3 linked regions of the Homo sapiens genome follow. The protein of the gene in region 1 binds, or shares a complex with, the protein of each later gene. Each region holds a gene or a part of one and is shown on either strand. Other genes may lie near its edges. A codon is read from its position in the direction of its gene.

Evidence for each region.
Region 2: the proteins of ORC3 (region 1) and ORC5 are in contact, whole or in part, in a cryo-EM structure (PDB 7JPO), measured with the Homo sapiens proteins. Residues at the interface, in NP_036513.2 of Homo sapiens: Glu99, Val109, Met144, Lys145, Leu148, His178, Ser180, Met181, Asp182, Glu223, Asp232, Ile235, Ile236, Gln239, His240, Ala253, Thr254, Ser255, Pro256, Ile257, Ile258, Ile259, Arg261, His265, Ser269, Cys272, Ile273, Glu274, Leu275, Ser280; in NP_002544.1 of Homo sapiens: Asn62 (codon at 2,929), Val64 (codon at 2,923), Glu65 (codon at 2,920), Phe67 (codon at 2,914), Thr68 (codon at 2,911), Arg70 (codon at 2,905), Leu71 (codon at 2,902), Gln75 (codon at 2,890), Tyr129, Leu270, Arg271, Ser274, Ser275, Ser276, Gln277, Leu294, His297, Thr298, His299, Val300, Glu301, Leu302, Pro303, Tyr304, Tyr305, Ser306, Asp360, Tyr367, Arg373, Pro376.
Region 3: the proteins of ORC3 (region 1) and ORC4 are in contact, whole or in part, in a cryo-EM structure (PDB 7JPO), measured with the Homo sapiens proteins. Residues at the interface, in NP_036513.2 of Homo sapiens: Thr227, His260, Arg261, Leu262, Leu263, Pro264, His265, Ala266, Ser269; in NP_001177808.1 of Homo sapiens: Pro370, Lys374, Glu377, Gln381, Ser392, Gly393, Asn394, Ser395, Gln396, Arg397.

The regions. Positions count from the first base shown.
Region 1 is NC_000006.12:87,593,101-87,600,211, forward strand, and holds part of ORC3 (origin recognition complex subunit 3), read left to right. Parts: intron 1-1,250; exon of another isoform or gene 1,251-1,252; coding exon 1,253-1,307; intron 1,308-1,426; exon of another isoform or gene 1,427-1,513; intron 1,514-7,111. UniProt on the Homo sapiens protein: Component of the origin recognition complex (ORC) that binds origins of replication. DNA-binding is ATP-dependent. The specific DNA sequences that define origins of replication have not been identified yet.
Region 2 is NC_000007.14:104,198,012-104,205,122, forward strand, and holds part of ORC5 (origin recognition complex subunit 5), read right to left. Parts: intron 6,224-7,111; coding exon 6,131-6,223; intron 2,948-6,130; coding exon 2,747-2,947; intron 1-2,746. UniProt on the Homo sapiens protein: Component of the origin recognition complex (ORC) that binds origins of replication. DNA-binding is ATP-dependent. The specific DNA sequences that define origins of replication have not been identified yet.
Region 3 is NC_000002.12:148,017,670-148,024,666, reverse strand, and holds the start of ORC4 (origin recognition complex subunit 4), read left to right. Parts: upstream 1-3,929; 5' UTR 3,930-4,034; exon of another isoform or gene 4,035-4,059; intron 4,060-6,997. UniProt on the Homo sapiens protein: Component of the origin recognition complex (ORC) that binds origins of replication. DNA-binding is ATP-dependent. The specific DNA sequences that define origins of replication have not been identified yet.

The sequences.
Region 1 (7,111 bases):
AAACAAACAAACAAAAAAAAACTATAAGCTATCCATCATGTATGACTTTAGAATTGGTAGAATAGACTAGGACCACTAACTTGGGGGTGATCTACCACTGGTCAAACAATAATATGAAACTAAACATAGCTGGGAAATTACCAGGACAGTTATTTGGCAAGCATTTATTCATTCCATATTCTGATTGCCTAATATGTATGTTAGCACTATTCCAAACATTGGAGAAACAATTATAAATAAAATACAGTTTGTGCTTGAAGGCACTCACAGTCTACTCAGGGAGACACACCCATAAACAACTACGATATACAATTAAAGTGACTTAAAACAATGCAAAATAAAGATGTTCAAGTACTGAGAGATCTCGAGGAAAGGAGAATTTCTGGCTAGAGAATTGTGAAAGGTTTCCTGAAGGAGATGAGTGTTGAGTCAAACTTTAATGGATAAATGAGTAGGCATTTATCAGATGAAGAGAAGTATGTAGAGTGAAACAGCTGCAATTATCTATTTACTACTAAGGTTATAGATACTTCGAGTTTAAATAAGTTTCGGGTTGGGAGAACATCACTATTTTCAACCTTTTTAATCTTCATTTTTATTTATTTATTTTTTGAGACAGAGCTTCGCTCTTTGTTGCCCAGGCTGGAGTGCAATGGCACGATCTCAGCCCACTGCAGCCTCCATCTCCAGGGTTCAAGTGATTCTTCTGTCTGAGCCTCCCGAGTAGCTGGGATTACAGGCTCACACCAACACGCCTGGCTAATTTTTGCATTTTTAGTAGAGACAGGATTTCACCATGTTGGCCAGGCTGGTCTCAAACTCCTGACCTTGTGATCCACCCGCCTTGGCCTCCCAGAGTGCTGGGATTACAGGCATGAGCCACTGTGCCCAGCCCATTTTAATGTGTAGTATTAATTCCTTTAAGTTTATGAAAATGGAACCTTTCTGGGCTTAAATTTAATCAGCTTTTATTTTCTTTGTCTACCTCTTAGATCAGGTGTCAAAGAGCAAAATCAAAAATGGGCATCTCATGGGAGGGAGGGGAGAGAGTAGATAGTCCCCCTTGTTGTTTTAGAATTTTCCTTCTATAGGTCAGAGAGAAGTGATGTGATTTCTTAGAACCTGAAAGAAATGTGTTCTCTCCCCTAACATCTTTTTTTAAAAAAGTGCTTACCCATAAAATATTTGGTTAATCAGATTTCTCTGCTCCTTGGCTACTTTGACTTTATGCTTTTCGTCTTTCTTTTTATAGGGTTGCTTTGTTTTTAAGCCAAACTCCAAAAAGAGAAAGATCTCTCTGCCAATAGGTAAGGTGTCTGAATATTAAATTTTTTATTCCCTACCTTCTTAAACTATTAGGAACTAACCCTAATTGAATTTAGTAATTCTCTTGTCTAACCTTGGCTTACTTGCCATGTTGATGTAGCATTTATGTTCCAAGGCATTGGTCAAAGAGATAAGAGGACACCCCAGGGCTCTAATTGAAAAGAGAATCCAATTACACCTTCCAAAGGTAAGTTGGAAGCAAATTTCCTTCAAAGGATATGCTGCTATTCTTTAAAAGAGATTGTCTTTTTGATTACTTCTCTGCCATTGTTTTTTTATCTACAACTTTAGAAATGAAAGTGAGTTTCTGCTAGAGAAACATTTTGATCCTTGATGAAGTAATCAAAACAATAAAGGCTGACTGGCAACCCAGATTTCTAATGATGGGGGAAATGTTATTTAGAAAATAAAATGATAATTGGTAACATAAGGAAAACCTAAGAAAGAATGATTATAAATTTGTATATATTTTCTAATGAAAATTGTATAAAAATTATTTTTGAGTTAAAATACAATATTCATGGGGAGACTTAAATATGCTTAAAAATTTTGATGTGATATTCCATTTTATGAATAAACTTGGCAAAATAAATTAAAGCAATCATCTATCTGTATGGAGCATTTTAGAACTTAGGGCTTAGTAACTACATGTGTGTTAGAATACTGCATGTTCTAACTTAGGGATAAATGCTGTGCACATCAATACATGCTGAGAAAAAAGCCCAAGGTCTTGGATCTCTTACAGTAATTCTACCTGCTAGAGCACAAAGTTATGGAATCACCTGGACTATAAGTAAAGGAATTGGAGTGTGATCCTGAGCCTGACCAGCTCTATGGCTTTGGCCCTGCTGTTTAACCTTTCCCTAAGTCTCTTCATCTGTAAAATGAGCAACTATACTCACTTATCACTAAGATTTCTCCCTATTCTCATTCTATCTCTCTAAGAGCTAACATGTAGTGCTTTGTAAGACTATCATAAATACCATGTGAATAAATTTGTGTTATTATGGATTGTTACCACCTTGGCCTTATAGTTTGTGTTCCAAGACTCCTATCTCTCACTAGCCTGAGGGAAGGGAAAAAGCTGAGAATGAGTAGCAGAAGACTTTCTACTCTCACAATGGCTACATATTTCCAAGTGGCCCAGATTTCCTCTCTTAGTCTTCACATCCTTTCTACCAGTTTGCACCCTCCATCATCTCTCGGAAGCACCAGGGTCCCACACAGTTCTCAATCACTCTTCATTTCATAAAACAAATTTGTTAAATTATTGAGTTTTAATCACTCATAGACACACATACTCATGATATTAAGGGAGTGGATTTTTATCACTCACTCAGACATACGCATACTCACACACTCATATACCCATGTGTGTAAGAGAGGAAAGACATTTCTTTTGGTTTTGTTTGTTGATTTATTTTAGAGACAGGGTCTCAGTCTGTCACCCAGGCTTCAGTTCGGCGGCCTGATCATAGCTCACTTCAGCCTTGAAAACTCCTGGGCTTAAATGATCCTCCCACCTCAGCCTCCCAAGTACCTGGGACTACAGGCATGCGCTACGACGCCTGGCTAATTATTTTTTAAAATTTTTTGTAGAGACAGGGTCTCACTTTGTTGCCCAGGTTGGTCCTGAATTCCAGGGCTCAAGTGATCCTCCCACCTCAGACCTCAAAGTGCTGGGATTACAGGTGTGAGCCACTGTGCCCAGCCTAATTTGTTTGTTTGTTTTTGTTTTTTTTTTTTGAGACGGAGTCTAGCTCTCAGCATGATCTCAGCTCACTGCAACCTCCGCCTCCCAGGTTCAAGCGATTCTCCTGCCTCAGTCTCCCGAGTAGCTGGGACTACAGGCATGCGCCACAATGCCTGGCTAATTTTTGTATTTTTTAGTAGAGATCGGGTTTCACTATGTTGGCCAGGCTGATCTCGAACTCCCGGCCTTGTGATCTGCCCACCTCAGCCTTCCAAAGTGCTAGGATTACAGGTGTGAGTCACTGTGCTCGGCTGTTTGTTTTTTTGTTGTTTTTTTTTTTTTAAGGCAAAAACAACACAGGTTGTGTTAAAGTCCCAGTGGTTTCCTGGGATGAAGTAGGGGGAATTAACTGCAAAAAGGCAAGAGGGAACTTTCTGGAGTGATGGAAATGTTCTCTGTTGACAGAGTGGTTATGTAAGTATATACCTGGGTCAAACTGTTAAAATGGTTGTGTTTAATTATTTGTAAATTATACCTCAATAAAATTCAATTAATAAAAAAAGATACTGTCTTCACTTTTTTCATTTATATCCTGATACCTGTTTAGTGATCAAATTAAGAAGACTTGACTTCTTCAATCAAATCCAGTATTACTATCAGAATGTATTTATTGCACCGGTTCTCAATCATAGCTTCACATTAGAATCATTTGGGGAACTTTGAAAAGTCTTATTTTAATATAATTGTAGATGCACATATAATTACAGGTAATACTCTTCCACCAGTAAGTACCCTACGACCAGTTATCCCCAGTGGCAGTATCTTACATAACTATAGTACAGTGTCACAATTAAGAAACTGATATTAATACAATCTAGTGACCTTATTCAATTCCAACTTGTGGGACTTTGAAAAAATGCAGGGTGAGAGTTCCTTATCCCAAATCTTGGGACCAGAAGTGTTTTGGTTATTGGAATTTTTTCAGATTTTGAAATATATACCTGTATATAATGAGATAATCTTGGGAATGAGACCCAAGTCTAAAAATAAAATTCATTCATGTTTCATATACACCTTAACCACATAGCCTGAAACGAATTTTACATAATATTTTAAATAATATTGTGCATGAAACAAAGTTTTGGCTGTGTTTTGACTGCGACCTGTCACTTGAGGTGAGATATGGAATTTTCCACTTGTGGCATCATGTTGGTACTCAAAAAGTTTCAGATTCTGGAGGATTTCAGATTTTTGGATTAGAGATGCTCAACCTGTGCCAATGCTAAGACCCTAACCCGGATCAATTGAATTAGAATCTCAAGAGTGGGGCCTAAGTGTTAGAATTTTTCAAAAGCTCCCCACAGGGTTATTGAGTATATACATTCCATATTCAGCACTGTGAAAATTAATTCCAGTGGAAAAATTATGATATGGAATTAAGCATACCCATGTACTAGTTTTGAATTGAAAAAATGAACTATGCCACTGTTTGACTAAGGAAATAAATGGATAACTTGAATATATAGAATAGGATTTTTTTTAAGTAATGATATATATATATACACACACACACACACACACACACACACACATATATATATAATTTTTTTTTAAAATAGAGATGGGATCTTACTATGTTGCCCAGGCTGGTCCTGAACTCCTGAGTTCAAGTGATCCTCCCACCTTGGCCTCCCAAAGTGCTGGGATTACAGGCGTGAGTCACCATGCCTGGCCACACATTTCTTTAATGTTGCAGATTGCTCAACTTACTAGAAATAGGTCAGAGAAAATTAAAGACTTGTTCCCCCATTATCATTAGGGACACATAGCATGCAGTGACATCTAATATCATCACCAATGTAATTATAACTAATACAGTTGTTAATATTTCTTGGATGTTTACAGTGTGCCAGACTGTTTTGTTTTTCAAGACAAGATCTCACTCTGTCACCCAGGCTGGAGTGCAGTGGCACAATCATAGTCCACTGCAAACTTGAGCTCCTGGGCTCCGGGAATCCTCCTGCCTTAGCCTCAGCTAGGACTACAGGCTCATGTCACCTTGCTTGCTAATTTATTTATTTTTTTTTTAAGGTGAGATCTCACTTTGTTGTCCAGGCTGGTCTCAAATCCTGAGCTCAAGCAGTCCACCTGCCTTGGCCTCCCAAAGCGCTGGGATTATAGACCCAGACTGTTTCAATCATTTTATATGTGTTAATTTGATTAATCCCCTCAGCAAACTACAAGGAATGTATTATCGCCATTGAAATATATAAGGATACTTAGACATATAACTTTCTCAATGTTATAATGTTAGTAAATGATAGAGCTAGGATTTGAACCCAACCTGTCTGATTCCAGAGCTCATGATTTAACCATAGCTTAATACTGCCTCTCATTATATAAGGCCAAGTTTCTATTTAGAACTTTTTGTATTGAATTTAAGCTACAACTTATTAGGATTGGTTTATAGTTTTTAGTACTAGTAAACCTGATGTGTATAATTGTATGATTTGAATTTTGCTTTAGAAGTTTGCTAGGCTTTTTTTTTTTTTTCATTATGTGGCTCTAAGACCAACGGGTAGTGTTATAATACGAAAATCTTTGAGGAATTGACCCTGATTATAAGGCAGATGGAGCAGGAATGAGGGAAACATACCCAGACTTTAACATTTGCCTTCACTGGCTTCAGTTGTTGAAACAGATTGACTGAAGAAGTAGGAAGATGCTCTGCATTTTGCCCACCATCTGTCCCCTGACTGAAGACACTTGGGCACGTAATTAAGACTGGTAACTCTCCCTCTCCTCAGTATTCTGTGGATGACTGCATATCCAGCAAAACAACTGGATAGGAACTGGAGAGAGAGAGACTGGCAGCAGCACTGGCACTGTAGGAGATACCCACACTGAAGTATAGCACTGTGAATAGGAGCCGAGGCAGGTAGAAACCTGGCAACAGTGAGAGCTTATATTCTTCAGTGTAGTTTTTAAATTTACCTACCTGATCTGTAACAGACTGAGAGAAGTCATGGTAACAGTTTAAAGTATCCTACTGCTGTGTTTCCCAGTTTCTAAGAGGTTTTTCATGTGTATTTTGATGCGGCATTATTCTGCACATAAAAATTGTGTCTTGATTTGCCACTTTCATGTTATGCTATGATTTTACCTATTAATGTAAAGTGACTATTTTTGTTCTTTTTAAAGCTACCTTGTTGTTCTGCTTTGTCTCTTTTTTTTATTATTTATTTATTTATTTATTTATTTATTTTGAGGCAAGGTTTTGCTCTGTCGCCCAGGCTGGAGTGTAGTGGCACAATTTCAGCTCACTGCAACCTCTGCCTCCCAGGTTCAGGTGATTCTCCTGCCTCAGCCTCCTGAGTACCTGGGACTACAGGTGTATGCCACCACGCCCGGCTAATTTTTGTATTTTTAGCAGAGATGGGGTTTCACCATGTTGGCCAGGGTGGTCTCCAAGTCCTGAGCTAATGAACCGCCCACCTTGGCCTCCCAAAGCGCTGGGATTACAGGCATGTGCCACCACGCTGGCCTGCTTTGTCTCTTAATAATAGTGTCCTCTGGCTAGGTGGGGTGATGTACGCCTGTAATACCAGCACTTTGGGAGGCCAAGGTGGGCAGATCACTTGAGGTCAGGTGTTCAAGACCAGCCTGGCCAATGTGGTGAAACCCCGTCTCTGCTAAAAATATAATTAGCCAGATGTGGTCGCGGGCGCCTGTAGTCCCAGCTACTCGGGAGGCTGAGGCAGGAGAATCACTTGGACCTGGGAGGCGGAGGTTGCAGTAAGCTGAGATCTCACCACTTCACTCCAGCCTGGGCAACAGAGCGAGACCCTGTCTCAAATAATAGTAATAGTAATAATAGTGTCTCCTTGCTTTCTTTTTTTGTTGGCATTTTAATTCTATAACCTTGTCTGCCACTTTACCGTACGATGACTTCAATGTATTCCAAGGCTTTTGATAAAATTAAAAATCAATAGTTGCTAAAAACTCTGAGTTAACTATGATTAGGAGAGAAGTTCCTTAACATGAAGTGAATTTATATTCCAAACTATCAGTTAACATTAAAACTTGGTGGTA
Region 2 (7,111 bases), on another chromosome or scaffold:
GAGAGAATGGCTTTATTATAAAAGGGACTTCTGCCACCTCTTGCTCTCACTCTCATCCTCTCTTGTACTTCTACTTTCATCATGAGAGGAGGCAGCAAGAAAGCCCTTGCCAGATGCAGGGACCTCAACCTTTGACTTCCTAACCTCCACAACTGTGAGAAATAAATGTCTTTTCTTTATAAATTACCCAGTCCTTGGTAGTCTGTTATAGCAACTGAGTAATAGGCAGAGGTTGGAACAGGATGGAGGGCTCAGAAGACAGGAAGAAATGGGAAAGTTTGCAACTTCCTAGAGACTTGTTAGATGGCTTTGACCAAAATGTTGATAGTGATATGGACAATGAAGTACAGACTGAGGTGGTCATAGATGGACATGAGGAACTAATTGGGGACAGGGAATAAAAGTGACTCTTGCTATGCTCTAGCAAAGAGAAGGGTGGCATTTTGCCCCTGCCCTAGAGATCTGTGGAACTTTGAACTTGAGAAAGATGATTTAGGGTATCTGGTGGAAGAAATTTCTAAGCAGCAAAGCATTCAACAGGTGACCTGGCTGATTCTGAAAGCATTCAGTCATATGCATTCACAAAGAGATTATCTAAAACTGGAACTTACATTTAAAAGGGAAGCAGAGCATAAAACTTTGGAAAATCTGTGGCCAGACCATGAGGTAGAAAAGAAAAAACCCATTTTCTGGGGAGAAATTCAAGCCAGCTGCAGAAATGTGCATAAGTAACAAGGAGCCAAATGTTAACAGCCAAGACAACGGGGAAAATGTCTCCAAGGTCTTCACGTGGCAGCCCATCCCATTACAGGCCCAGAGGCCTAAGAGGGAAAAATGGTTTTGTGGGCCAGGGCCTTGCTGCTTTGTGCAGTCTCGGAACTTGGTGTCCTGCATCCCCACTCATGGCTAAAAGGGGCCAGCGTATAGCTCAGGCTGTTGCTTCAGAGAGTGCAAGCCCCAAGCCTTGGCGGCTTACATGTGGGGCCTGCAGGTGCACAGCAATCAAGAATTAACGTTTGGGAACCTCTGCCTAGATTTCAGAGGATGTACAGAAATGCCTGGATGTCCAGGCAGAAGTTGGCTGTAGGTGCAGGGCCCTCATGGAGAACCTCTACTAGGGCAGTACAGAAGGGGAATGTGGGGTTGGACCCCCCCTACAGAGTCCCCACTGGGCACTGCCTAGTGGAGCTATGAGAAGAGGGCCACCATCCTCCAGACCCCAGAATGGCAGATTCAACAGCTTGCACTGTGTGCATGGAAAAGCCACAGATACTCAACGCCAGCCTGTGAAAACAGCAGAGAGGGCAACTGTACCCCGCAAAGCCACAGAGGTGGAGCTGCACAAGGCCATGGGAGCCCACTCTTGCATCAGTGGGCTGGATGTGAGGCATGGAGCCACAGAGGTCGAGCTGCATGAGGCTGTGGGAGCCCACTCTTGCATCAGTGGGCTGGATGTGAGGCATGGAGTCAAAGGAGATCATTTTGGAACTTTAAAGTTTAATGACTGCCTTATTGGATTGCAGACTTTCTTGGGGCCTACAGCCCCTTTGTTTGGGCCAATTTCTCCCATTTGAAAAGGCTGTATTTACCCATTGCCTGTATCTCCATTGTATCTAGAAAGTAACTAACTTACTTTTGATTTTATAGGCTCATAGGTGGAAGGGACTTGCCTTATCTCAGATGAGACTTTGGACTTGGACTTTTGGGCTAATTAAGCTGGAATGAGTTAAGACTTTGGGGGACTATTGGGAAGCCACAGTTGACTTTGAAATGTGAAACCGACATGAGATTTGGGAGAGGCCAAGTGTGGAATGGTGTGGTCAGGCTTTGTGTCCCCATCCAAATCTCATCTTAACTTGTAATCTCCATAATCTCCATGTGTCAAGGGAGAGACCAGGTGGAGGTAAATGAATCTTGGGGGTGGTTCCCCCATGCTGTTCTTGTGATAGTGAGCTCACATCTGATCTGACGATTTTATAAGGAGCTTCTCCTTCCTTCTACTTTGTGAAGCAGGTGCCTTGCTTCCCCTTTGCCTTCTGCTGATTATAAGTTTCCTGAGGCCTCCCCAGCCACGCTGAACTGTAAGTCAATTAAATCTCTTTCCTTTATAAACTATCCAGTCTTGGGTAGTTCTTATCCAATTCCAAAGATGATCATTTTAACATGTCTTCAGAGTAACCAGGCATATTTGTTGCTCTAAAGTCTTTACTATCTCCTATCCACTCCCTAAGAAATTAAATGAAGTGCTTTAGTATAGTTTTCTAGACCTTCCACAATCTGCCCAACCTATCTTCCAGTCTTCTTTTTCTCCCGTCATACTTTATAACCCACTAAAACTAGACTATTTGGTACTCTCTGGCCTCCATTTTCAGCTGCATGCCTTTACTTATATAATTCTATCTGAAATTCCTCTACTTCAATTTCTTCCTAGAATACTCTGATTCATTTAGGTCTGTCTCAAATGCTAATACCTCATGAAGCTGTATTGGACACACACAGTCAATATTTTGCATCTGGTGACAATCACTTATCACATTCTGCATGTAGTCGTATGTATGTGTCATACCTTTTCTATTAAATGAAGCTTCCCTTGGATAAGGAATATATTTAATACATTTCTGTATACTAAAAGCACCTGGCACAGAGCACTGTACATAATGAGACTCAAAACAAATATATGAAAATTGATCTAATAAATTATCAGTTTTCAAGATAAGAGATGATCTAATCAAATGAAATTACTTACAATATATACAGTCTGATCTTTAAGATTTTCAGCTGTGGTTACTTGTTTAAACAAGCGAACAAAGTCATTAAATGTTTCACAGGTTATTTCAGTAGAACATCCATCCTCTGAAGAACTAAGATGATTCAATTTGTTTAAAATTTGTTCCAAAAGCAGCCTCAATGTAAAGCATTCAACACAATTCACAAACACATGTGGGAGCTGAAAACGAAAACCAAAACACTGTAAGTAAAGAAGAAAACACACAAACACAATAATGGCTGTGCTGGATAGTCTCCATTTGCCTTTCTAAATCTATATCCCACCAAACCCACCCCATGCCCCAAGAGCCTGACAGCTACAGAATTACATCACCTGGACTCTCTTATTTTCTGTCTCTGGATGGAGAAGCCAATGGAAAGAACCAGCAGGAGACTAAGGGAGAATGGTGGGAGAGAAGTTTGGATATTGATTTCCTTGACTCCCACCATGACCCCTCAGTGGCCCTAGCTTGGCAGTGGATACTCTTCTACCAAAGATCAAGTTGGACAGCCCCTCTTCTAAGGCTACACCTCTTGTTTGGTTCCAATAACAGCTCCTTTCTATGGTCCCTTCAGGCCTGGAGGTGGTAAAGGCCCTGGTGTACCATCATCCCTTAGTGATTCCCATAAAATTTCCATTATAAAACTGTCCCTTCATTAAACTCACTTCAATTATTTCTTTCAGCTTGCCATTTCTTTCTTATGGAAATTCAAAGCAAATTTGTATTTTCCTATAAAGAATTCTTATAAAGAAATCAGCCAGGCATGGTGGATCATGTCTGTAATCCCAAGGCTTTGGGTCAGGAGTTCCAGACCAGCCTGGGCAACATAGCGAGACCCTGTCACTATTAAAAAAAAAAAAAAAAGAAAAGAAATCTAAGCATATTTGAATGTTAAAAATCTTAATAGGAATTTCACACTTATAACTTTAATATAATATCCTTGAATAAACGTTTACTAAGTCAAAAAAAAAAAGAATTTTAAGAGTTAGAAACCATAGCAATCCTCCTACGAGGACTGTAAGCACTAGCTCTTTGCTAGGCATATGGCTCCTGCCTGTAATCCCAGTGCTTTAGGATGGGTGGGAGGATCATTTGACCCCTGGAGTTCAAGATCAGCCTGGGAAACACAGTGAGACTCTGTCTTTAAAAAAGTAAAAAAAATTAGACAGGCCTGGTGGTGCACATCTATAGTCCCAGCTACTTGGGAGGCTGAGGTGGAAGTATCACTTGAGCCCAGGAATTCATGGCTGCAATGAGCTATGATCATAACACTGCACTCCAACCTGGGCAATAGAGCAAGACCCCATTTAAAAACAAAACAAAACAAAAAAAACTAGCCCTTCATTTAAAAAACTATCAAAATATCAACATGAGTTAACTCCAGAAGTAATAAGGTCACAAACGAGACTTGCTCACCAATACAGTCTATCCTCAAAATAAGATCACAAAAGCAGATTCATTCTGAGGAAGATAACTTGTGGCACTTGGCACAAATAATGGAACTGGTAACTATTTTTAGTGATTTTATAAACTTTATCCAATAAGGAGGCTTTTCTTTCTCTGAATAACAGTGTCACTAAAGCCACATTAAACTTACTTGGGGACAGTTTCACCAGCATTTGCTAACTCACTTCTCTCTCACTCCTTTACTGTCCTTTAAGAACAAAAGTCCACAACATCTCTGTTATGAATAGTGTCTTGCTTACGGCATTTGTACCATCCATGACTTTTAAAGGCAGCATATTCTAAGTGCCTGTCTGAGTCCCTGTATCAGAAGTAGTAACAATAATCATATATTACACTGATTAAGTAACAGCAGAAACTACAGTGTGATAAAAAATGGAATACAGTCCTTAAATATGAAACTTCCTTACTGGGTTTTATTGCTTTTATTCAACATATATTTTGGGGGCACTTCATTCAGGGGGTTCTGAAATGCAAATGCCTGGACCAAGACCTTGTACACTCAGATTCTGAAGTCCAGTATATAGCCCAGGCATATGTGTTTTTTAAAATGCACAGCTGATCTTTGAGATCAAAAGCTGAAATCTACAACTTAATAAGCTGAAATCCACAAGTTAATACGTGCCAAGTAATGTGCTTGGTGCTGGGGATAATTTCAAGAAACTCACAATCTAAAGCCAGGGAAACATAAACACAAAATCATAGCTGAGAAGGCTAAATATTATGACAGAATTAAGCACAGGGTGCTAAGGTTGCAAAACAGGGGGGCATCTGATACAGCCTAGAGGATCAGGAAAGACCTTGTAGAGTATAAGTAGAAGAAAACCTGGCAAAATAAATAAGCATTTGCCAAGCAACAGGAAGAGCGAGTACAGGAAAGCCATTCCAAGTAGGGGAGCAACATGTGCCATGGCTTGAAAGTAAGACAGCAGGAACTGTACACAGTTCAGTATGCTATCCTAAACGTGCATCCTCAGTGCTAGAGGAGGACGGGGTTAGCAAGCCAAAGCCTGTGGGCTAGCCACCTGTTTTTGTACATACTGTTGCTTTGAAACACAGTCATGCCCATTCACATAGAGAATGCCCATGGCTGCTTTCACAATACAGTAGAGTCAAGCAGGTGAGACAGAAACTACGTGGTCCACAAGCACAAAATGTTAGTTATCCGGCCCTTAAGAAAAAGACTGCCCATCTCTGGTTTAGGATATGAAAGGGAGTATGGCAATACTCATCAATAATAGCAGCTAACCTTTATTGAGTGCTTACTACGCACTATGTACTGCAGAAAGCACTTTCCATGTGCTAACATTTAATTCTCTTAATCCCAAATGTTGTCACTATGAGCCAACTTTGCAGATGGAGAAAGCACTAACTGGTGAATCCAAAAAGGAACATGAGTCTGCCAGACTCCACAGCCCAAACTCTTAACCACTGTGTTATGAAAGATAAATTCAGCTCATGAAAGGTCTTATACAATGGGCGAATTACTTGAACACTGTCCTGAAAATATTAAGATTTGCATGGCCTAGCTGCTGGGTGAAGATTGCAAATAAGAGGCTTACAGAAATACATGGAAAAAAAACAATGGTAAATGAAAATCCTAGCAGCAATGGCTAGGATTAAAGGTAGATGGAGACATGATTTTAACAATGTGAAGCAACAGACTAAGTTTATTGATGTGATTTACTAAATGAGGGAAGATGAGGAAAGAGTTAAGAAAGTGCAAGTTTGGACAACTGTGTCAATGACAGTAGACCATTCATGGAGAAAGATAATATGGGAAGGAGAGTAATGTAAAGGTGGTATGTTCAATTTTGCATTTGTGGAGATTCACAATTATCAGTACCAATATTATACACTAAAAATGGCAAAGAAATATTTAATATTTTTATTCTTACCTCTAAAGTTTTCAACAACGTTTGTGTTACATAGGTCTTTCCACTAGCAGTATGTCCATAAATAAAAATGGATGGAAAGCTGAAATGATGTCTCTAACGAGAGAAAAGACAAATATGAGGCTGCACATACAAAATAGAAAATAAACACTTATCAACTTGTGAGAAAGTTGTACGTGGAAAAGTGAAATATTCAATCCAAATTCCTAACAATGAGCATATTGTGGATGCATCAACACACTTTGAACCTACTTGAATTCAACTCTAAGCACTTTCTTTGTTATGAAATTAAAATGTATGTAACATATTTGGCATATTTTATTATGTACTATATATTTATATTTTTATTATCGTACAGGTTTACATATACAAACTAGTATTTTCAACTTCATAGCAGATTTAAGAGATTTTTCAAGGATAATTTTGTTCATACTCCATTTTTATATTACTCCTTCTTAAAGACTCTTATCTCCTGCGATGCCACAACTTCACTATACATTTTAATGCTATGAAATAAAGTACATATAATCAAAAGATTAAAAGGAATTTCAAGGGTCCTCATTCTTAGGAAAACTTATAGACTACTTCTGAACTATGCATACTCACTGATGCTGGCATAAATGCATACATTAGATCACATAAAACACTAATAAAATCTGCATAGCATTTATTTTAAAATACATATGTGCAAGATCCTCTTGCAGTACATTAGGTTAGCAGCTTAGAGAAAAGTAAATATTGTCAAAGGTCTCTCTGGTCTAGTTAATACTACAAATACTTGTACTTCATTCCTTAAATGAACGCTTTCATTAGATACCTACTAAATGCTGAAAACCATGAGGTACTGAAGAGAACAAATAACAGTAAAAGACATTATCTACTTTGGAGGAAATTATAGTCTACATTTTTAAAATAATTACGGGAAAACTTGATTTTTTAATAATACTCTTTTTTTTTTTTTTTTTTTTTGAGATGGAGTCTCAC
Region 3 (6,997 bases), on another chromosome or scaffold:
ATGAGAGCCACAGTAGAGATAAAGAAAAAATGTTCATGATAGTGAAAATTGTGGCAAGGGAGGACAAGAAAAGGAGAGGAAAGGAATTCCACATATGGAAGTAAAGAAATTCAAATATGCCTAACTCTAAAACTAACATGGATTATGACAAGCTACCAGTAGGAACTACTGTGTACCAGATATTGTGCCAAGAGTAGAAGGATGTGTTAACAAAACAAAAATGTTTGTTTTTAGGCAGTTCATAGGGCAAGACTCACAAGTAAGCATTTATAAGAGAATATGCATTCCATTTATTCTTATAAGTATGGGCCCTTAATACAACAGTAAGTATATTTACTGATTAATTGTAAGTGCAGGAGGAAAATAAGTATTAGAGAAAGCTGAAATTATTTTCAAAATAGTAATAACCTACAATAAGTGCAATTAGTACTTTAAAAAATTAACAAATTACTAAATTTAAGTAGACAAAATAATAGCTTTAAAGCCATTTACCTTAATATTCTTACAATAACATGCTCCCATATGAAACCCTCAAGTGGTATACCCAGAACTGTACATAATAGTTTCATTTCTGACAAAGGAAATGAGGTAGTGCAGCATAGTGAGCATCAGGAGACCTGAGTTCCCTGGTCCCTGCTCTGTCACTTCCAGGCCTTGGAACCTCAGGCAAGTTCAAGTTCTTAGAACTTCAGCAATAGGTAGAGTTGGATAAAGTGACCTCCAAGATACCACCCAGTTGAACAATTACAATCCTAAAGTATCAATGGTTCTTAATACTTAAAAAGGTTTTCTAAACATAAATCATTATCCAACTTAGATAAAGTCTGCAATCTTCTAACCATAAAGGATCATGGGGGTGAGGGTGAGGGGTGTGATAAAAAAATGTTTAAAAAAAAAAAAGAAACAAAATAAGGAAAGACATTAAACTCAAGACTAAATTTTTACTCAGCTGCCTACTGGGCAACTACCACCCCAATTATCTACATAATTCCCTTACCTAAAATTAATTTCTTCAGTAAGTTCTACTGTCTCTCTCTTACCTTTAAAGTTGCTGAGGTTTTAAGGTGAGAACAAGAAACCTTACAAGGACTTGGAATGGCAGTATTGATGTTGGGAGAAAAACTTGAACTTGGCACAGATTTCTGCTTAAGTGCACTAATTACATCTCAGAGAAAGGTAAAAAATTGTTCAAATTTATAACAGAAGGGAAATAAGATCATATTGTTTACTGCTATAAAGCTTTTTTATTTCGGTATGTAAATGTCTACTTTTGCACACAGTTGATAATTAAAATTTTACAGAACAAGTTTCTACATATGCAATGCTTCACTGTCACTAAAATATATGTTTTAGCTTTAACCATCAAGAAAATAAAAAATTAGAAGTATTATCATGTCTTTATAATATTTTTGCCAAATATCCTTCTAGATTTATATTTCTTCAATCCTTTCTAGTTGATCAAATTGCTGTTTTCATATTGCCAGTCTGATCACAAAATTGCTGCTTTACAGAAGAATATTTTTTGCTGACATAAATTATGGGATCAGAGATACCAATGCAGTTACAAAAAAAAAAAAAAGGGTGTGAGGGAGAGAGAGCGAGCGAAAGAGAGTGTGTGTATATGCATGTGTGCATCCATCTTCAAGGAAAGAATAAAGAAATGTATATATGAAACAAAATAACACTTTCCAATATAAGCCCTAGTAAAAGGCCTACATCAGAAACATACTTTCTAACATTTGTGAAATAAAATACAGCACTGAATTTTAAAGCTATGCACTAAGAACACATTATACAAAAATGAAGTGATTTTTATCAATATTGTTATTCCATAAACTTAAATCTGGATTTACCTTTCAATTTATAGCTAACTGAAATTAATATACTAACTATAAGTTCATGATTTCTTTGACTCATGAAAACATATTTTAGAAATTTGTGTACTTTTACATACAGTGGGCAATTTGGTTCAGAACCCCAAGAGAAATTGAGATGAAAAACTCATCTCAATTTACAACAGTAAATAAATAATTCAGCTAAAACTGAAAGTGGTACCAATCCAGCAAACTATTGATGGAGAGGTTTGGCCTTCCATGCAGCCAGAACAACATAAAGTTTTCAATGGGGATTACTTGTTCAGACAAGTTACAAAGATTACAAATATACCCAGATTAATTATAAAATAGCTAATATTCTCATCATATGGAAAATAAGTATCAGGAACGTATGTGGGAACAGACAATAGCAGTGGCATTTAAACTTTAAGCATTTTAGAGCTTTGGACTTTATATACTGATATATGAAACAGACATTTAACCAAAAAAAAAGCAATAATGCAAGTCAAAACCTAACCAAAGGCCTCTACCAACTAAAAATTTGAAATTTTCCATGGAAGTCAGACAAAACGAAAAAATGGAAAATGAAACCCTTAAAGCAAAAACCAATCAAGTCTTCCAACACTGAAGTCAATATCCAAATCTCATACAGGACCAAAAAGGGGAAAACACTCAGGTCTACAAATGGATAAGCAGTTCCAATACAATCCAGATCCCGACATTTTCCCACTCAGAAACAAATGCAGTGGAGCTTTTCCTGGAGAAAAAGAGCTCTCCAATGAATTTTTTTTAAGTGACATCTAGAAAGTGTGCCTCTTTCTGTCTCTTTCCCTGGCGCCTCATTGGAGGAAGGAGGGGGTTGTTTTTGTATTCTCCCCCACTGGAGCAAGACACAATCAGATGTTAGATGGAGGAGAGAAACCACTTTTGACAACAGCAAATAAAAATAAAAGTGCCCTTCCTCCCCTGACAGGATGGGCACCCCACCTCACACACCCCTCCCTACTCCAACCCCTCCTTCACCCCCCCCAGCACCACCCCCTCCTCACCCCGGAGCTCCACTGCGTATGTGGTTTGGTGCTACTGTTGCCCCGGAGTGAAAGTCAGAGCCAGAGGAAGGCAATGAAGCCCCCACAGACACACTTACCTTTCCTGCCCCCCACTTTTGAGTGCCTTCCCTGGAGCTGTGGAGGATGACACAAAGGGTAATAAAGGGGGGGAGTGGAGGAGGAGGAGGCGAAGGAGGAGGAGGAGAGCTGGGGAAGTGGCTGCTCCTGGGTGTAGTGAGATGTCTCCAGCCAGGGCCAAGCAGCAGCAGTAGCAGCAGCAGCAGTAGCAGCAGCAGCAGCAACAGCAGCAGCAGCAGCAACAGCAGCAGCAAAGGGTCTGTGTTGCTAAGAGGCTTTTGGTTTCTTTCTCTCCTCCTCTCACGGCCAAAGAGGAGGAGGGTGGAGGGAGGGAGGCGAGTTGGAGGGGTGAGGGGGTAGGAGTCGTGGATGGGGGTTTTCGAAGAAGAAGAAACTCCTTCTCCTCTCTCAGGCTCAATCCCCCTCTCAGGGCTCAGGGCTGGAGGGTGGGGGAAGGAACTCAGCCGCCTTCCCCCCACCCCCCTGAATTCAAGGTTGAAGTGGGGTAGAATTAGTGTCCTGTCCCTTTAAAAATAGAAATAAAAGGTGCCCCCCCTCTGCCACTGCCTCTCTCTTCATCATCAGCTGCTGCTGCTGCTGGGGTCTCTCTGCTTGGGGGGGAGGGGGGGTTCGGGTAGAAGAGACGGGAGGCACTCACTGCGCATGTCCCTCTCTGACGGGTGGCTGGTTGGTTGAAGGCAGGAGGAGGGGGAGGGGAGGAAATGAGCTATTTTCCCAGAAGGCGTCGAGGCGCTAGCGACCCGGAAGACATTGTAGCGGGAGGTACAGGAGCGGGGGCGGGGAGGAGGAGGAAGTCGCTACGCTTTTAACACCCCCAGCTCCCTCCTCCTTCCTAAGGGAAAGTGGAGGAACGGAAGTGGGCGTGGACGGAGACGAAAGGAGGTCACGTGTTTGGGCGGGAGAGGGGCGGGGTGGGAGAGGTAGTGCGTGCGCGGGGCATGCCGGGAGTGGTTGTGTACGGTCCGCAGCGGCAGGTGAAGTCTAGCAGAGGACGCGGCCAGGCGATTCGGTGAAGCGATTCCTGCAGGCGTTGGTTCCCCTCTTTGACCTGGTAAATGCAGGCTTTTATGCGAGAGGTAATGGTGGGGGTAAACTTGCTGCAAACGAAGGCCAGGGGCGTCGGTGGCGCAAGGTGAATCGAAAGTGGGAGGATGGAAGGCTGTGGAGATTGGGAATTGGGAAGGGGGCAGGCTTGTATAGGCCGGGAAGGCCAGGACCAGGCGAGCTCCGTCTTGTGGCCACTCCCGCCCCGTGAGCTTGCCGAGGAATCCTTGACAAGTGCAGGGATCCTGAGTCTACCTCTGCATCGGGGTAGTAGGTGAGGAGCGTGACGGTCCGAGTGTAAGAGAGAAGGGAACTGTGAAGCCTCAGCAATTGACCCTCATGACTGCAGGACGGAGGACTTCTATCTAGGGACAGAGACAAGTCCTCTGTATGCATTTTGACCAGATGCATCACACGCGTTGCTCATATTGGATATTGCGCCCTTCATGCCTTACCTCTCAACCCTCCCTGGTATTCTGGAGTGGCTTTGGGGAAGGAGCAGGCAGGGAAGTCTTGAGTGGAGCTTCCCTCCATGTCTTGCGTTGTTGCTACAACACAAAGCCTTTGCTTTTTCTCGGAGAGGGATGTGGGATTGTGTAGTCCTTAATGTTGAGTTCTACGATTGATGAAGGAGAAGGGACGTGATCAAAGTTTCCCCTTATAGTGTAGATGAGAGTTTTAAAAGGACTGTTTTGTCAAGTTTCTTTGGTTACTATTCTTAGTTTTTGAGCCTTTGGTTTCCCAAATGCCAGCTGTTTTTGCTGAAAATAATGAATTTCTATCATAAAATTAGAATTAACTCAAAATATTTAAGAAAGGATTTATAAATTTACATTAGTAAAGCTTTTATAGTGAAACAGTGCTGGTTCTTTTTCATTGTTTTCATACAATCAATATAAAGCATCACAGTCTCAATATGTTTTGTAAAGATATTTTGAAGGAATATCATCTTTGTATGTTTTTTAAAAACCAAGAATCTAAAATTCTTCGTATTTATTATGTTGGTACTTAATTCTGTTGGGTGGGTTCTTTTTGTTTGTTTTTTGTTTTGAGACGGAGTCTCGCTCTGTCTCCCAGACGAGTGCAGTGGCGCGATCTCGGCTCACTGCAACCTCTGTCTCCTGGGTTCAAGCAGTTCTCCTGCCTCACCCTCCCGAGTAGCTGAAACTACAGGCATGTGCCACCACGCCTGGCTAATTTTTTTGTGTTTTCAGTAGGGACGGGGTTTCACCATGTTGGTCAGGCTGGTCTCGATCTCTTGACCTCAAATGATCCTCCCGCCTCGGCCTCCCAAAGTGCTGGGATTACAGGCGTGAGCCACCGCGCCCGGCCGGTGTAGGTTCTTTAGGTGTACACTATCAGTTAAAGTTACTAATTTTCCACGTTTTGCTTTCTGTAAGTTTGGGCAGTGGACCCCGTTTATGCATCATTGCTTAGCCCTTAGTATCTTCTGTATTGTGTACGGTAATCATGTCCGATGGAATCAAAACTAGACTCCTGTGCTTTAAAATTTTCTTTGTAGTGTAACCAATTGTCTGTCTTTATAGTGTAACCAATTGTCTGCCACTTTGTAATGAAAAAAAAAAATACCAGCAAGGCAGTTAATGTGCCTTAGCTACAATTTTAAATATTTTGTGTCTTTTTCCATACATTTAGTATTTAAGCATACAAACATCGATACATAGTATAATGAAAAACTATAAAGTGTGAACTCTATGTAAGCGCTGCCACAGTCAAGAACTAGAACGTCTGTGGCACCTGAGAAGCTCCCCTCTCCATTCTATTCCTGATCATCCCTTTCCTCAATTCTTTTCAGTGGTTAACACTATACTGATTTTTATGGCAATCATTTACTGCTTTCTTTCTTAGTATTTCTTAACCACCTATGTCAGCATTCCTAAGCAATTTAGGTTCGTTTTGCCTGTTTCTTAATTGTATGTAAGTGGATTATATATTACATATCATTATGTATCTTTTTCTCTCATGCAGCTGGGATATAACTCTATTAGTACATTTAGCTCTAGTTCTTATATTGGATTGTAGTAATCTATAGTATAATAAGTATAGTATAAAAAGTCTTAATGGAAATGAGCCACAGTTTAGTCTAATATTAATAAACATTTGGATTGTGTTCCGTTTTTAGTAGTTATGAACAATGCTATTATGAATGTTCTTGTACATGTATTCTTAATGTACATTACCATGGGTTTTTGTAGAGTACGTATGTTTATCTTCAACTTCACTAGTTATGCCTTTTCCAAAGTAGATACACCAATGTATACCCCGACAGCAGTATATGGTAGATCCCTTTACTTTTACTGTCTCACCAAGAGTTATTTTTCCTTTTTCCCAACTTGATGAATGTGGCTTTATCTTATTGTTGTTTTAATTTATTCTGCCCAGGACACTAAAGAGTTTGAGCACTTTTTCAAAAACTTACCGGCTATTTGAATTTCCTCTTTCTAGAATTGTCTTTTTAATTCTTAAATCTTTTGTGCATTGTCTTTTTAAATCTTTTTGGGAGGTTTTTTTGTTTGTTTGTTTTTTGTTTTAATTGGGTTGTCTGTTTTACTCAGGGATTTCTAGCAGTATGGCCAATATCTTCTCTGTGCTTGGAGCATTACTCTCTTCTGGGATGGCAACTTTTATCTTCATGTAGGTCTTATAGGCTGTCATTGTTCTTTGAATTGTATACGTAGTTTAAACTCCAGATAACAAGTTCTATGCTTGTGCTATTCATTGCAGTAGCTACTAGCTGCGTGTGGCTTTTGAGCACTTGAAATGTGGCTAGTATGACTGAGGAACTGAATTTTTAGTTTTATTTAGTGTTCAATTAAGTTTAAAAACTGACACTTGATTCAGTTACTGTAAAACCTGTATGTTTGGAACAACTCGGATACATAAACCTTTCTTAACCGCAAATTATTAAATTATTATTTTTTAATTTTTGGAGATTTTTTCCCCCCTGGA